2 linked regions of the Homo sapiens genome follow. The protein of the gene in region 1 interacts with the protein of each later gene in a biochemical or structural test. Each region holds a gene or a part of one and is shown in the gene's direction. Other genes may lie near its edges.

Region 1 (3,809 bases):
ACCCAGGGCAGGCCCAGGGCTCAGCGACCAGCCCGCTGTGTGGACCCAGACAGCCCAGTTCTGCCCAAGAGCAGAGGTCACAGCTAGCTCCTCCACCCAAGGTCCATCCAGATCTGGGTGGGGCTTGGCCCAGGCCAGTATCTTTAGTGCCAGGGGACAAAGAGCAAGTGAGAAACAGACAACCAGGAGAGACATACAGATAGGGCAGACTCTGGGGACCATGAGAAGACCACAGTACGAGCCCAACGAGAGTCAAAGCAAGGACGGACCTCATTTTCCCTCCATCTCCCATTGCCAAGGGTTTAAGATTGGCTCCTCCATTGTCCCTGTCCCCAGGTTCCCCCAGCCCAGAACCCTGGGCTTGGACTCCCTTCAGGAGGACTTATTCTTGGCCATCACTCAAGCTGTGTGCACAGGGGCCAGCCTGAGGTGTGGCAGTCAGGAAAACTGGCACTACTTGCTGAGGACCCAATCCCAATGGGAGGATGGGGCCAGAACCATGGCAAGGATCAAAGGCAATGCCAACAGAGGGTGGCTCCCTGGACCCTGGAGGGGGGTCCTGAGAGACATTTGGATTTGGGCTGGGCTGGCCAATTGCTCCAGGGGCTTCTCCTGAAACCTCCCCAAGCTGTGACTCCTGGGATGTCAAGAAGTGGGGTGGTTAGGTAGGCAGAGCTGGAAAACAGGTGTCTTAAAACCAAAAAGAGAAAGATACACACAGACTGTGTGGAGTGCCCCAAGGGAGTGTGGGATCAGACACACTGGAGCCCAGGTCCTAAGGGGCCGTGTCAGCCCCAACAGTCATTCTAACCTTTGATGCCCATCTGGGGAGGGGCTAGTTGAGGCTGATCACAGGGTGGTGCCTGTGGGTTGGCTGATCTGCCTGGAAAGAACCAGAGCCAAGAAACTGGAAAGGCGGACACAGGCAAGAGTCCCTCCTGTGTGGTGGGGGTCACCCAGCCTCTGTTCCCAGTGCCACAGGCCCCTTCCCCAAGTAGTCTTCTTATGCCCCTGGCCTAGCAGGACACAGGTAGCAGCAATCAGTGCCCCACTGTGGGAGGTCCCCGGTTGGGGTTTCCAGTTTGGGTGAGGAATCAGCCTACCTCTTCTTGCCCCCATTCCAAACCTGGGAGACCAGGGAGAAAGAGGGCTGACAGGAAGGTGCAGATGAGGACTGGGTTTGGAGTTAGAGCTGGAGGCGAAGTTGGGGGTTTGGGGCTGGTAATGTTGAGTGGGGACTGGTGCTGGAGATTGGGTTTACATGGTGGGCAGGCTGGGCTTGGGGTTGGGGTGGAGGTGGAATCAGCTGTCCGGCACAGCTGGTGGAGGAGGGAGCTGGGGTCGGGGATGGCAGTGGCCCCAGGCTTAGATTTCTGTCAGGGTTAGGCTAATGCTGGGAACTAGCTTAGGAGGTAGCAGCGGAATCCGATGTTGGAATCCTCTCTCTCTTCTGGCCCCTGTCACTTTCTTGCTGATGCTGGCTGCCAGCTGGGCAGGGGGCAAGGGAAGGATAGGTGAAAGAGTGAGCTCTGTGTCCCATGTCCCCAGCCATCCCAGAAGCCCCTCTGTTGGGGTCCACTGCTGGCGGAGCAGCTCTCTCCTCTGTGGGTTCTCCCCAGTCACACCCTCAAGGCCTGCTCCACCCCCTCCCCTGGTCCCAGCCGTCAGAGAGGGTGCCCACATCCCACTCCCTGACTCTCAAGGCCCTGCTCCGGCATCTTTGTCCTAAGTGTGTACACTGACTCTGACAGAGTCTCGGCTGGAGGGACCCTCTGAGAAAGCTGGGGCTAGGGCTGGGCTCAGGGCCGGGGTGGGGGGAGTAGACAGGGAGGCTAAGCCGCAGAGGAATGCTGCTGCCGGCTAGGAGGTGCCTGGCATGACCACCCCCGCCCAGCCTGGGGAGGGAGGGCTCGGCCTTCTGCTGACTGGGGGAAGAGGGCACTCACTGGGGTGTGAGGGGTGGGGCAGCTGAAGAGACAAGCCCTCTGGACTGACAGACAAGGCTGCTCCCACAAAGACTCATGGATTCTCAGTACCAAGGTCTGGGATTCTAGAATCTGGACTTTCCCCTCGACCCCCTCTGTAAGGTACCCCATCCTGCCCTCCTCACCCTGGGGCAGCCAAACCCTAAATGCCCTCCACCCTCCAACCCTGGCCTAAGGCTGGAGTCGGTGGCAAGGGCGCTGGCTTCAGGGCTTCTTCTCTCCATGTGTTGGTTTCAGGGACTGTTCCAGGGTCTGAGGAGAGGCTAGCTTCCTCTACTCTCTGCTATTTTCTGGACAAGGATATAGGATCCCCCACAGGAGGCAGTACCCCCCACCCAGACCCATGGTAAAGAGGAGCCACATCTGCCCCCTCAGTCCCACCACACTGGAATTCACACAATCAGGACCCAGAGTTAAGAGTCCAACCCTAGATCCTCCTGTCCAACCACCCCCGCAAGCAGCATTAGAAAAGCACCTCTTGGGGCCGGGCACGGTGGCTCATGCCTATAATCTCAGCACTTTGGGAGGCCAAGGCGGGTGGATCACCTGAGGTCAGGAGTTGGAGACCAGCCTGGCCAATATGGTGAAACCTCGTCTCTACTAAAAATACAAAAATTAGCCAGGCATGGTGGTGCGTGCCTGTAGTCCCAGCTACCCGGGAGGCTGAGGCAGGAGAATCGCTTGAACTCAGGAAGCCGAGATTGCAGTGAGCTGAGACCGCATCACGGCACTCCAGCCTGGGCGACAGAGTGAGACTCTGTCTCTAAATAAATAAAAAATTAAAAATAGAAAAGTACCTCTTGGGCTGGGCACAATGGCTCATGCCTGTAATCCCAGCACTTTGGAAGGCCAAGGCAGGCGGATCAACTAAGGTCAGGAGTTGGAGACCAGCCTGGTCAACATGGTGAAACCCCATCTCTACTAAAAATACAAAAATTAACCGGGCGTGGTGGCGCATGCTTGTAATCCCAGCTACTTGGGAGGCTGAGGCACAAGAATCACTTGAACCTGGGAGGCAGAGGTTGCAGTGAGCTGAGATCATACCACTGAGCTCTAGCATGGGTGACAGAGTGAGATTCCCTCACAGAAAAAAAAAAGAAAGAAAGAAAAGCACCTCTTCCTCAAGGTGCTCAGCCCGCTTCCCAGGCCCTGGTGCAAGGCATCTCACATCCATTATTCTGGCCAATCCCACACCCAAGTTAAGCCAATGTTATCATCCTTTTATAGGTGAAGAAACTCAGGCTCAGAGAAGTAATTTGCTCAAGGTCACACACACAGCTAGTAAGTAGCAGAGACTGAGTTCTCCCCCAGCCATGCTGCTTCTATTGCCCACCCTCAGTCCCAGGGAGCTCACCCCCACTGAAGTAGCCAATTCCACTTGCAGACAGCTTTGATGATGAGAAAGTTTTTCCTTTCCTTGAACTGGCATCTGCCCCTTGAAACCTCTACTCCTACTTCTAACTCCTCCTCAGGGGCTGCCAGGAGCAGCGGGCTGACCCCTCTCTCACCCTCCAGCCCATGAAAGATTTGGGGGCAGCCCTCTGAGGCTGTTATTCCTTGGGCCTCACATCTCTCAGTCCACAAATCATAGGGCACAGCCCCCACCCCGGGTCCTGTCCTCTGGGTGCCCCATCCCAGGGCCTCACATCTTCCAAGATGGACACTCAGAGGGAGGCCAACCTGGAGTGCTCTGGCATTCACGCCAGCCCCTCTGCTGTCCTCTCCGCCTCCCACCACACCCCAGGCTGCTGAACGAAAGTGACAAGCGCCCCTTCATCGAGGAGGCTGAGCGGCTCCGTATGCAGCACAAGAAAGACCACCCGG
Region 2 (3,809 bases), on another chromosome or scaffold:
GCAACACAGTGAGTGAGACTCCATCTCTGCAAAAATAAAAATTAGCCAGACATGGTGGTTTGCACCTGTAGTCCCAGCTACTCAGGAAGCTGACGTGGGAGAATCGCTTGAGTCTGGGAGTTCAGGGCCCAAGTGACCTAAGATCGTGCCACTGCACTCCAGTGAGACGCCTGTCTTTTTTATTTATTTATTTATTTATTTTGAGACGGAGTCTCGCTCTTGTTGCCCAGGCTGGAGTGCAATGGCGCGACCTTGGCTCACTGCAACCTCTGCCTCCCGGGTTCAAGTGATTCTCCTGCCTTAGCCTCCCGAGTAGCTGGGATTACAGGCGCCTGTCACCATACCTGGCTAATTTTTTGTGTTTTTAGTAGAGATGGGGTTTCGCCATGTTGGCCAGGCTGATCTCAAACTCCTGACCTCAGATGATCCACCCACCTCGGCCTCCCAAAGTGCTGGGATTACAGGCGTGAGCCACCACACCAGGCTGAGACCCCCATCTCTTAAAAAAAAAAGTAATAAAAATCACAGTAGCCCCAGCACTTTGGGAGGCCGAGGCAGGCGGATCACGAGGTCAGGACATTGAGACCATCCTGGCTAACACAGTGAACCCCCGTCTCTACTAAAAAAAAAAATACAAAAAATTAGTTGGGCATGGTGGCGGGTGCCTGTAGTCCCAGCTATTCAGGAGGCTGAGGCAGGAGAATGGCGTGAACCCGGGAGGTAGAGTTTGCAGTGAGCTGAGATCGCATCACTGCACTCTAGCCTGGGTGACAGAGCGAGACTCTGTCTCAAAAAAAAAAAAAAAAAAAAAAAATCCAATAGCAATATAAGTTGTAATGATAACAATCATCGCATCATTAATAACAATGTAGTCCTTTGAGAGCTGGGGGGAGGAAAACAGCTTTCTGTGCTAGGAAGGGATCACCCCTGTCCGAAATGCCCAGCCCAGCCTGGTCAAGGCAGGGAGATGGAAAGGCAGTTTTGCTTCTCTTTCTCTTCTTGTTCCTTGTATTTATTCCACCTTGAGGCTGAGAAACTAGGTCCCAGATGTTTTTAATTTGTTTTATTTTATTTTTTATTTTTTTAGAGACAGGGTCTTACTCTATCCCCCAGGCTGGAGTGCAGTGGCACAATCACAGCTCACTGCAGCCTCGACCTCTGAGGCTCAAGTGATCCTCCCACCTCAGCCTCCTAAGTAGCTAGGACTACAGGTGTGCGCCACAGCAACTATGCCCAACTAATTATTTTTGTAATTTTTAGTAGAGACGGGGTTTCGACATGTTGGTCAGGCTGCTCTCAAACACTTGGGCTCAAGTGATCTCTCCACCTCGGCCTCCCAAGTAGCTGGGACTACAGACGCGCACCACAAAAATTATGCCCAGCTAATTTTTGTAATTTTCGTAAAGATAGGGTTTTGCCTGCCGGCCACAGTGGCTCACACCTGTAATCCCAGCACTTTGGGAGGCAGAGGCAGGTGGACCACCTGAGGTCAGGAGTTCAAGACCAGCCTGGCCAACATGGTGAAACCCCATCTCTACTAAAAATACAAAAATTAGCTGGGCATGATAGTGTGTGGCTGTAATAGTGTGTGCCTGTAATCCCAGCTACTCGGGAGGCTGAGGCAGGAGAATCTCTTGAACCTGGGAGGCGGAGGTTGCAGTGAGCCGAGATTGTGCCACTGCACTCCAGCCTGGGTGACAAGAGTGAAACTCTGTCTCAAAAAAAAAAAAAAAAAAAAGGAGATGGGGTTTCGCCATGTTGCCCAGGCTGGGATTGAACTGGGCTCAAGTGATCCACCCACCTCAGCCTCCCAAAGTTCTGGGATTACAGGCGTTAGCCATAGTCCCCAGCTGAGATCCCAAATGCTATGCAGACTCAGTTTCCCTTGCTGGAAAATGGGAAGAATGGGAGGGGCCTCCCCACACCCAGACAGGGAGCTGGGGGCCTCCCACTGCCCCACATTTCTCTTCAAGGGGCTGCTGTTATTTTCGTGGGGAAGTCAGATGAGTGCAGGTTCCAGTCCACCTCTGTCCCCCATGGCCGGGTTCCCCCTCAAGGCCTCAGTTTCCTCATCTGTAGCATGGGTGTTGTGACTGCCCTCAGACACCAATTTGTCATGATTTGGGAGTAGGTTGAAGTCCCAGCTCTGGCCCAGTCTCAGCGCCTTCCCAGCCCTCGGATTTTCCATCTCCAGGGTGGGTCTGCAGGGAACGGGGTGGCCCCTCTCCCCAGTTCTGAACCTTTGTGGCTGAGCGTCTGCTTCTCTGGTCTGTTTCTGTATCAGCACAGTGGGTTCATGGAAAGGGGAAAGGAGGGAGAGGACTCCACCCGGGATTTCTCCTCCCTCTGATTAATCCTGGTGCACTTGAATCTCTTATCTTTTGATGCAGAAATCCCCCCACCCTTCCAGCAGCCCTCAACCTCCAGGCGGGCCTAGTGTCTGCCTGTGGATCTCAGCCAGGCCTGTCTGTACATATGCTCTGTAGGAACAAGCTTTCGTAGTCATTTTTTGTTTTTTTGTTTTTTGTTTTCCCAAGATGGAGTCTCGCCCTGTCACCCAGGCTGGAGTACAGTGGAGTGACCTTGGCTCACTGCAACCTCCACCTCCCAGGTTCAAGCAATTCTCCTGCCTCAGCCTCCCAAGTAGCTGGGATTACAGTCATGCGCCACCACGCCTGGCTAATTTTTGTATTTTTAGTAGAGACAGAGTTTCACCATGTTAGCCAGGCTGGTCTTGAACTCCTGACTTCTTGATCTGCCCGCCTCGGTCTCCCAAAGTGCTAGGATTACAGGCATGAACCACCGCGCCCAGCCGGGTTTTTTTTTTTTGAGACGGAGTCTCACTCTGTCGCCCAGGCTGGAATGTAGTGGCGAGCTCTCGGCTCACTGCAACCTCTGCCTCCTGGGTTCTCCTGCCTCAGCCTCCTGAGTAGCCGGGACTACAGGCGTGTGCCACCATGCCCAGCTAATTTTTGTATTTTTAGTAAAGATGGGGTTTCACTATGTTGGCCAGGCTGGTGTCAAGCTCTTGACCTCAAGCGATCCACCTGCCTCAGCCTCCCAAAGTGCTGGGATTACAGGCGTGAGCCACTGCGCCCAGCCTCATTTTTCATTTTTTTTTATTTCTTTCTTTTTTTTTTTTTTTTTTTTTTTGAGTCAGGAGTCAGGGGTCTCACTACGTTGTCACCCGGGCTGGAGATCAATGGCGCAACCTTGGCTCACTGCAGCCTTGACCTCCTGGGCTCAATTGATCTTCCCACCTCAGCCTCCCAAGTAGTTGGGACTGCAGGTATGCATCACCTAGCTAAGTTTTGATTTTGTAGAAACGGGGCCTCGCTATGTCATCCAGGCTGGTCTTGAACTCCTGGGCTCAAGCAGTCCACCCACTGTGGCCTCCCAAAGTGCTGGGATTACAGGTGTGAGCCACCATGCTTGGCCGCCGACCCTAGTTTTTTTTTGTTTTGTTTTGTTTTTTGAGATGGAGTCTTGCTCTGTCGCCCAGGCTGGAGTGCAGTGGCGCAATCTCGGCTCACTGCAAGCTCCGCCTCCCGGGTTCATGCCAATCTCCTGCCTCAGCCTCCTGAGTAGCTGGGACTACAGGCGCCCGACACCACGCCCGGCTAATTTTTTTGTTTTTTTTTCAGTAGAGACGGGGTTTCACTGTGTTAGCCAGGATGGTCTCAATCTCCTGACCTCGTGATCTGCCCGCCTTGGCCTCCCAAAGTGCTGGGATTACAAGCGTGAGCCACCGTGCCCAGCCTTGTTCTTTTTTTTTTTTTTTTTTTTTTTTTGAGACAGTGTTTCACTCT

Evidence for each region.
Region 2: the proteins of SOX10 (region 1) and NFIC form a complex in vitro, tested with the Homo sapiens proteins (one study listed by BioGRID).

The regions. Positions count from the first base shown.
Region 1 is NC_000022.11:37,978,056-37,981,864, reverse strand, and holds part of SOX10 (transcription factor SOX-10), read left to right. Parts: intron 1-3,729; coding exon 3,730-3,809. UniProt on the Homo sapiens protein: Transcription factor that plays a central role in developing and mature glia.
Region 2 is NC_000019.10:3,376,544-3,380,352, forward strand, and holds part of NFIC (nuclear factor 1 C-type), read left to right. Parts: intron 1-3,809.